Regions from separate parts of the Homo sapiens genome. Here regions 1 and 2 are each linked to region 3. The links come from fine-mapping of genetic effects on gene expression. A gene starts in region 3. Each other region holds a variant in brackets. All regions are shown on one strand. Distances are from middle to middle.

Region 1 (2,748 bases), 64 kb before region 3:
CCGCCGTGCAGATGGGCGCCCTCCTGCTCTGTGTCCTGGGCATCCTGGCTGCCTTCCACCTGCCCAGGTGTTACCTGCTCATGCGGCAGCCAGGGCTCAACACCCCCGAGTTCTTCCTGGGAGGGGGCCCTGGGGATGCCCAAGGCCAGAATGACGGGAACACAGGAAATCAGGGGAAACATGAGTGACCCAACCCTGTGATCTCAGCCCCGGTGAACCCAGACTTAGCTGCGATCCCCCCCAAGCCAGCAATGACCCGTGTCTCGCTACAGAGACCCTCCCGCTCTAGGTTCTGACCCCAGGTTGTCTCCTGACCCTGACCCCACAGTGAGCCCTAGGCCTGGAGCACGTGGACACCCCTGTGACCATCTGGGCCCCAGAGCCAAGCTGTGTCCCTGTCCCTCTGTGCCCAGACCAGGCCTGCCCAGGTAACCCAGACCCACTGTTCTGGAAAGAGGCCCGGAGGGCTCCCAGGGTACCCGCAACCCACACCGTGAGCTCAGGAAAAGGACGCAGGGAGGCCCCGGCCAGATGGCTGGAAGCCCAAATCAGGCCCTGCCGACCTGACCATGTCCCACCAGGGCCCCCATCCTGCACCCTGCCAGGCACCACAGCAGTGGGAGGCCAGGTGGGGGCACACAGGCATATGCCCAGGGCAGAGCCCGCCGAGGTAGGGGTGGCACCCAGCTTCCTACTCTGCCCTTTGCCCAGTGGGTAGACAGCATCATGACTGTCACCAGTACCAGGGACAGAGCCCAGGTGGGGTGGGGGCGGGGTCCAGCACCACGGCCAGCACCGACCACCAGGACCCCGGAGCCAGCACCATGGACAGAAAACTGCCCACCAGGATCTGACGCCAGCACGCCGCCAGGCCCACACAGGGTCTCCGGTCAGAGTCCCAGGGTCAGCTCCCAGCAGGGCCTAGGGGAGGCTGGACCAGCTCCCTGTGCCTCATTCCAAGGCAGCCCAGCCGGAGAGAAGGGGCACAGGCCACACATCTGTCCCATAAAATTAAACGCTTTTTAGTGTTTAAAATAAGCAGCATTTACACAGAAGCAGCTCTATGTTAACCATCTAAACGCTGGGACTTTGATACAGTATCTACAGCACAGACACGTGGGGGCCAGAGAAGCCAGGAAGGCCGCGATGTGTGCGCGCAGTGTGTGCACTCACCAAGGACGGGCCACCTGACTGCCCATCTCCCCAAGACCTCCCTCCCTGTGGCAGCTGTGCACATCGGGGCCCCTTGACCCTGCGGGCCATGGTCCCTCCCTGCCCTGGCTGGGACACGGTGGGCAGGATGTCCAGCCCTCTCTCGTCTTCCGGTCCC[G/A]TCCTCCACGTACTTTCAGACTGTTGCCGGATGGGAGGAGAGAAGGTGCAGGCTGCTCCAAGGGGCAGCAGCAGGTGGGACAGATGACAGGGTCGCCTCCTCCCCCGAGTCACCGGCCAGGCAATAAATAAATAAATTAGATCCCTACTCCAGACAGGGGGCCTGTGCACCGCAGGGGGTTGCCCCGCATGGACCACCCTGGGGGCCTGGGCACAGCTGTGCAGGAGGTGGGGGTCAGCCGAGAGCCCGAGGGGGTCTTCCTCATCCCAGGAGGGATCCCCACCAGACACAAGGGGTTGGGAGGTCCGAGGCTCTCGCTGAGGGGCAGAGAGGGAGCGCCCCCAACACGGCTGCTCAGACACAGGTGCTGTCAGGAGCTGGAGCAGCCAGGCTGCCAGGGCAGATGGTGGTGGTCCAGCCTGCCCCCCACCCTGCCTCCCGTCCTGGCCCCCACGAAGGCAAGCCCACGCGAGCTCTGCATGCGGCAGGACCGCCAGCTCCCCACCTCAGGCAGGGCTGGGGCATGCGCCACGAGTCACATGATGTCCACGAAGAACTCGCAGGGGTTCCCCATAGCCTTCTGGAAGGACTGGCGGCTGCCTGTCAATTCCGGGGGGACGGCAGCCAGCTCCCGGACAGGGGGTCCCCCGGGTGGCCCCCCCACCACTGTATAGGCCTTGGTCGTGGGGTGGGGCGGGGGGAGCCCCGGGGCGGTAGCCGAGGCCTGACTGCGTGGGCTGCTGCCACGGCTGAGCTGGCCGGCCGGACGCTCTCGCCAGCTGCTCCCCACCCCACTCGGTGCCGTGTGATCCGATTCACTGCCACTGCCCCCAGCTCCCGCCGCCCGACGCTCCTTCTCACGGCCCGGGGCCCGGCGGCTGCTCCGGGTGGACCCACTGCTTTTGCTCCCTGGGAGTGAGAACAGGATGGGGAAGGAGCCTGTCAGCACCAGGCCCGGCCACGTCCAGAACAACCGCCCCCGCCAGGTGACCGGGCAGGAACGGTGGCCCGTGCAGGACGGGTGGGTGGGGCAGCCATGCAGGCGCGAGGACAGGGCCGGCACCCCCAGGGTCGCAGGGGCAGCTGCGGCAGGCATGGGCTGGTGGGGGCAGTGGGAGGCAGGCAGGGTCCTGGGGCAAGCTGGGCGCCCCCACACCTCACCCCGATGCTTGAGCTGAGGGCCTGGTCTTGCGGCTGAAAGACTGAGGTGCCAGCGAGGGCCCCTCATGCCCGGTGCCCCCGTGGCCATCCTGGATTCCCCACCCAAGGCCCCACTGTCCCCCCGGCCCAGGACCCTGGCCGACGGATGACTCAGCTCAGCCCTGTCCTGGGCTCCCAAGACGCAGTGGGAGCTGGAGGGCGTGGCTGGCTGGGGACATGCTGAGGGACCCCGGGCGGGACCCTGGCTTACCGGCCCA
Region 2 (2,748 bases), 39 kb after region 3:
TACAGGCCTCTTGCTTAGAGTTCCTCTTTCCCCCAACCTAGGACCTTTGGGAGAAGGCAAGCATCCACTTAAGGAAAGCTGGGGCCCTGGGGGACCCTGCCTTGCTGTGGGGCTGTCTGGGGGGCCCACACCTGAGGCTGAGCATTCCTCCTTTCCCCCAGGTCCACCAGCATCAGCCCCCCGAGGGGACCTGATGTTCCTGCTGGACAGCTCAGCCAGCGTCTCTCACTACGAGTTCTCCCGGGTTCGGGAGTTTGTGGGGCAGCTGGTGGCTCCACTGCCCCTGGGCACCGGGGCCCTGCGTGCCAGTCTGGTGCACGTGGGCAGTCGGCCATACACCGAGTTCCCCTTCGGCCAGCACAGCTCGGGTGAGGCTGCCCAGGATGCGGTGCGTGCTTCTGCCCAGCGCATGGGTGACACCCACACTGGCCTGGCGCTGGTCTATGCCAAGGAACAGCTGTTTGCTGAAGCATCAGGTGCCCGGCCAGGGGTGCCCAAAGTGCTGGTGTGGGTGACAGATGGCGGCTCCAGCGACCCTGTGGGCCCCCCCATGCAGGAGCTCAAGGACCTGGGCGTCACCGTGTTCATTGTCAGCACCGGCCGAGGCAACTTCCTGGAGCTGTCAGCCGCTGCCTCAGCCCCTGCCGAGAAGCACCTGCACTTTGTGGACGTGGATGACCTGCACATCATTGTCCAAGAGCTGAGGGGCTCCATTCTCGGTATGCGGGAGGAGGCAGGGCCCAGGGAGCCCTAGCTGGGAGCCGCAGAAGGAGAGGCTGGGTTGAGACTTTGGGAAGATCTCATGTCCCCAGAGCAGCGGCCAGGGCCTCCGGGGCTGTGGTACCCCTAGGGTGCAGGGCTGAGTGATGCAGCTTGTCTATGCACACTCTTCACTGGGCGACCCGTGTACCCTGCTGAGACGGGGGCAGGCTTGAGTAGCCACCTCCAGGTGTAGCTCCCTGCTGATGTGTCCAGCCCAGACCTCGAGGCCCCAGGGAGTGCAGAGCCCGGGTGTAGGCCCAGGAAGAAGCTTCCAAGTCTGGGGACTCTGCAGATGGGCAGCATGTGCTCCTGAGCATGCCCACCATACCTGGAGAGGGGTGAGCCAGAAAGGTCAGGGACTGCCCCCCCAGAGAGCACAGGGCACCTCTCCTGGGTGGGGACAGCCGCCGAGGGCTTTGAACTAGTTCGGACTGCAGGCCCACTGTGAGGGTTTCCTGAGAGGCCGGACCAGGGAAGGCCTGAGGCAGGAGCTGAGCAGCTCCCATTGGCTTTTTTTCTGGACCTCCCTGCCCCAGCCAAGCCCTGAAGGAGCTGGGGCTGGAGATGAGGAACC[G/C]GCCACTGGCTCAGCCTGCTGCAGCCACTGAAAAATGCCAACCCTGGGGATCTCACCAAGTCTCCGTCTGTGGGTTAATCATCCACCCAGAGCCGGAAGGGGTTGGACTGTGGGTTGGAGAGGGGTGGACGGCCCTCCCCAAGGTTTCCCCAGGGACGTCTGGCCCCTAGTGGCCCCAGGTCACCCAGTGCAGCTGCGCCTGGAGGGGACCAGGAGGAAAGGCTGCCTTAAGCAGCCAAAGGAAAAGCCTGAGGCTGCAGTGCCGAGGGGCCAGGCAGCAGGGTGGGGGCTCCTGGGAAAGAGGCCGGGTCTGAGGGTGGGGGATGGGAAGAAAGTGGCCCAGGCACCCAGCACTGCAGGAGGAAGATCCTGATAGCTTTAACCCAGCGCAGACATTTATGAGCCTCGCCACAGCAGGGTCACTCAGAGGGCTATGTGGGGCTTGGTGTCACAGGTCCAGGAGTCCCCCTCTGGAGAACCCCACCCCACACTCTCCTGGGGACCCAGGGCAGGCAGCGCCTCCAGAACCCCAGGGCCTGCCCCTGTGGTCTCCCATCTCCTAGCTGCAGCTCAGAGAGCCGGGCTGACCTCAGACCCCGGCCTGGCCACTCAGGCTGGGGCTGGTCCTCTGCTCTCAGGCACCACCGTGGACTCTGCCGTCTTTGAGGACCTTTGTCCTGGTCACTGATCTGGCCACTGCACCTCTCCACAAAGGACTGGGTTTGGGGCTAAGGGAGGCAGGGGCGCTTCTGACAGGGCCTGAGGGGGCTGCACCCTTTCCTCCGTCCTCCCCCAGCCAAGGCACGTTCTGAGAATCCCCAGCATCTGCGGGGCATGGCTCCAGCAGCTCCTTGGCCGCGGGGCCCCGTCTTTCCTAGTGGGGCCTCCAATCTCCAGATCTTCCCCATCAGCCAGGGCCGCCCTCCAGCAGCGGAGGAGGAACTGACCGCTGTTCCCTGACCCCCTGCACCACCCACAGACGCGATGCGGCCGCAGCAGCTCCATGCCACGGAGATCACGTCCAGCGGCTTCCGCCTGGCCTGGCCACCCCTGCTGACCGCAGACTCGGGCTACTATGTGCTGGAGCTGGTGCCCAGCGCCCAGCCGGGGGCTGCAAGACGCCAGCAGCTGCCAGGGAACGCCACGGACTGGATCTGGGCCGGCCTCGACCCGGACACGGACTACGACGTGGCGCTAGTGCCTGAGTCCAACGTGCGCCTCCTGAGGCCCCAGATCCTGCGGGTGCGCACGCGGCCCGGTGAGGCAGGGCCGGGGGCTTCGGGCCCGGAGTCGGGGGCTGGGCCGGCCCCCACGCAGCTCGCCGCCCTCCCCGCCCCAGAGGAGGCCGGGCCAGAGCGCATCGTCATCTCCCACGCCCGGCCGCGCAGCCTCCGCGTGAGTTGGGCCCCAGC
Region 3 (2,748 bases):
TAAAGAAAATAGGCATCTATGATAGACTAGACAGCTCTGACTGACTCACTTTTTGTCTCTCAGCTGTCGAAGGCGGTGAAACACATTGATGACGTCCCGTATGCGTCTTGGGGCCTCTTCTATCTTGGAAGCCAGGTGGACACAGGCCATTGACACATGCTGAAGCGGAAGCATTGCAACACGCCCATGTTTGTCCCCAGCCACGGCGTCCTGACGGCCGCCAAAGGCTTGAGGGCTATTCAGACCAAAAGGGAGGTGCACCCAGGGGAAAAAAAAAGTCAAGAAACAGAACCCTCCGGCACAGAGCTCAGACTGGGGGGCAAGTACTCACTCCCTTAGTAACCGGGCAAAGTAACAAACCGTTTTACCCTCAACATACTTCGCTGGGAATGAAGTGCAGGAGGAAGCCTTACCTCCATGGAGTGCTTCACGAAGGACTTGGTATAAAAGAACCGCTGGAACAACACCTGCCCGGTAGCCATGGCCACCTAGAGTAGAAGAAAGTTTCCGTATTTTCAAACGCACCATTCAAAGCCTTCGCGGCCGAAAGTCATCGAGTAACGTGGGACTCCCCACGCAGAACCAAACACTGAAACGCTTCCCACGTCCACAAAGGCTCTTCGCGTCCCGCCGTCTCGGGATCCAGCGCACTGGCGGGCGGGGAGGCCCCGGGTCAGGGGCATGGGCTGGCTAGGGAATGGCGCCGAGGCTGGGGTCGGGGCAGGGGCTGGGGTCGGGGTCTAGGCGGGGGCGGTGCGGGCCCGACTCGCCGCCAACAAAGGCGGCTGCCGCCCCAGCGGTTACCTGGGCCGGAGGCTCGCGGCCGCGCCCTCACCTGCGGCAGGCGGAGCAGGATACCGGCCGCCTGGATGAGCTCGCAGCCCACCACGCGGAGGTCGGTCTCTGTGTCGGTGTCGAGGCCGCTCGACATGGACGGCGTGAAACGGAGCTTGTCGTCAGGCAGGAGGCAGTTCTCCAAGGTGATGAGCACCCCGGAGTACAGCCTGTCCCCGATCAGCACCCCCTGCGACCCTGAGGGTGCGCCCCCAGATCCCGGGGCGCCGGCCGCTGCCGCGGGAGCTGCCGACCCTGCAGCACCAGCCGCCGCCGCCGCCGCCGCCATTTTGTGCCGCCGACTCCCCTTCGGCTTCTTCCCTCAGGGCGGCTCCTCGCGAAGCTCCACGGCCGCCACCGCCCCGCCCCGTCGCGTGCCATTGGTTCGGCCCGCGACCAGCGCGACGCCGCCTAGCCGCAATTGGCTACATAACCTGCCCGTCAGCAACGCGCCTAACGCCGACGCCGGAACCTGGCGCGGGTGGGGCGGGCTCGTTACCCAGGGGACTCCGCGGTGCCGGCCGACCCGGAAGCATGTCTGTCCCTAGCGGAGGCGCGGGTGCCGTGCTGAGAGCGCCTGCCTGTGCGCCCCGAGCGGGGCTGGGACTCTTCCAAGATGCCCACGTTCGCACAGAGACCCCGGATCGCGGAAGCTCGCGTCTCGAAAGGCCTGTGGGTCAAGGGGGGCCATCTCGGTGGGATCTGGGGCGGGACGACCCCCACTGCTGAACCCTGGGCGCGGGGCAGGGTCAGAGGCTCCGCTCGGCCTCCCCCTGGATGAGACGCGCATGCCCGGTGTCCCCCGGCCGCCGTCGGCGTCGTGTCTTCAGTCCTTATCGACTCCAGACTTTGGGGATGCGTATTAACGCCAGACTCCTGCAAAGTCTTGCCTTCAACACTCAGCCCCTGGGGAGAGACGGGTGGAGGGATGACTGGAAACGTGGCCTCGACGTCCCTACAGAGCCCCTCCAGCGTGGGGAGGCCTAAGTACCTCAAGGTTCAGGCCCACGGAAGGAGTCGGGGGAGCGAGGCCCGGTGATCTACGTGTGAAGGAGCTTGGACAGGACCTCACAAACGCCAGGGAGACGGCGAGGGGGTTCGTGCGTTTGTAACGTCTTGACATCGCTGATCCTCCCGCAGGCGGTCTCACGCCCTGCCCGTCCTGGGTTCACGGTTTTTCATCACCTGCGGCTGTCCTGCGATCGACCACAGCTGTGCAGGAGGGGCAGGAGGTATCTGTTGCTGCAGTTACCGGAACCTTTGCCAGGACTAGTACAGGACCACGGGTGAGGATGGTGGGGAAGCCTGCGTGGGGCAGGGAACGGTGAGGCAGGAAGAGGGAAGGGCAGCAGAGGCCTGAGTGGTTGCAGGTTCACACACTGAGCTGCCAGTAACTGCCCAGCTCAGACGGGCTCAAATTCAGAAGCCACCATTGCTCCTCACCCCCACCCCCAGGTCAGCTGTCCACTAGCTCTGCCATGACTTGATACTGCAGCTCAAACAGTGCCAACCAAAACCCACTCTCCTCACCGCCTGTTATGGGTAACACGGTATGGTTACAGCTTTACTCATGTCCTCTTTCCCCAGGCTGGTAGCTCAGGGATGTCTCGTCTGTGAGTTACAGCTGCACGCTCTCCAGGAAAGAAGGAATTTCCTCTTCTCTGGAAACCCCACCACACAGCTGGTTTCTCATTGGTGCTGCTTGCCCATTCCCTGAGCTGTGACTGCCAGAGGAGTGGGAGGTTGGTGGTGCCTCCAGCCCATCAGGGGCAGGCCCTGGGACCGCCTGGGAACAGGAGGACTATGGCACAAACCGAGTGAGTGATGGGAGCAACCCGCAGGGCTCTGCCACATCCCTGTCTTCCTTCACTGACATGAAACGCAGAAAAGGCAGCTTTGCCACAACACAGGAGC

The links.
Region 1: its variant is fine-mapped to the expression of MRPL20-AS1 in whole blood (INTERVAL, PIP 0.99).
Region 2: its variant is fine-mapped to the expression of MRPL20-AS1 in putamen (GTEx, PIP 0.98).

What each region holds. Positions count from the first base shown.
Region 1 is chr1:1,334,277-1,337,024 of GRCh38, forward strand. TAS1R3 (taste 1 receptor member 3) reads left to right here. Exons shown (of 6, transcript NM_152228.3): 6 at 1-1,038. The coding sequence ends at 188. DVL1 (dishevelled segment polarity protein 1) reads right to left here. Exons shown (of 15, transcript NM_001330311.2): 15 at 1,002-2,239. The coding sequence ends at 1,866. Among named protein-coding and RNA genes, the nearest start is that of MIR6808, 4.1 kb to the right of the region's middle. The variant G/A (reference allele first, on the strand shown) is at 1,331.
Region 2 is chr1:1,436,766-1,439,513 of GRCh38, forward strand. VWA1 (von Willebrand factor A domain containing 1) reads left to right here. Exons shown (of 3, transcript NM_022834.5): 2 at 162-719; 3 at 2,316-2,748. Among named protein-coding and RNA genes, the nearest start is that of VWA1, 2.4 kb to the left of the region's middle. The variant G/C (reference allele first, on the strand shown) is at 1,337.
Region 3 is chr1:1,398,184-1,400,931 of GRCh38, forward strand. It overlaps MRPL20-AS1 (MRPL20 antisense RNA 1), which reads left to right and starts at 1,347. Exons shown (of 3, transcript NR_015434.1): 1 at 1,347-1,506; 2 at 1,975-2,120; 3 at 2,422-2,748. CCNL2 (cyclin L2) reads right to left here and starts at 1,152. Exons shown (of 11, transcript NM_030937.6): 1 at 836-1,152; 2 at 414-488; 3 at 50-159. The coding sequence starts at 1,123. RefSeq lists silencers at 865-1,044, 1,115-1,354, 1,645-1,704 and an enhancer at 2,090-2,633.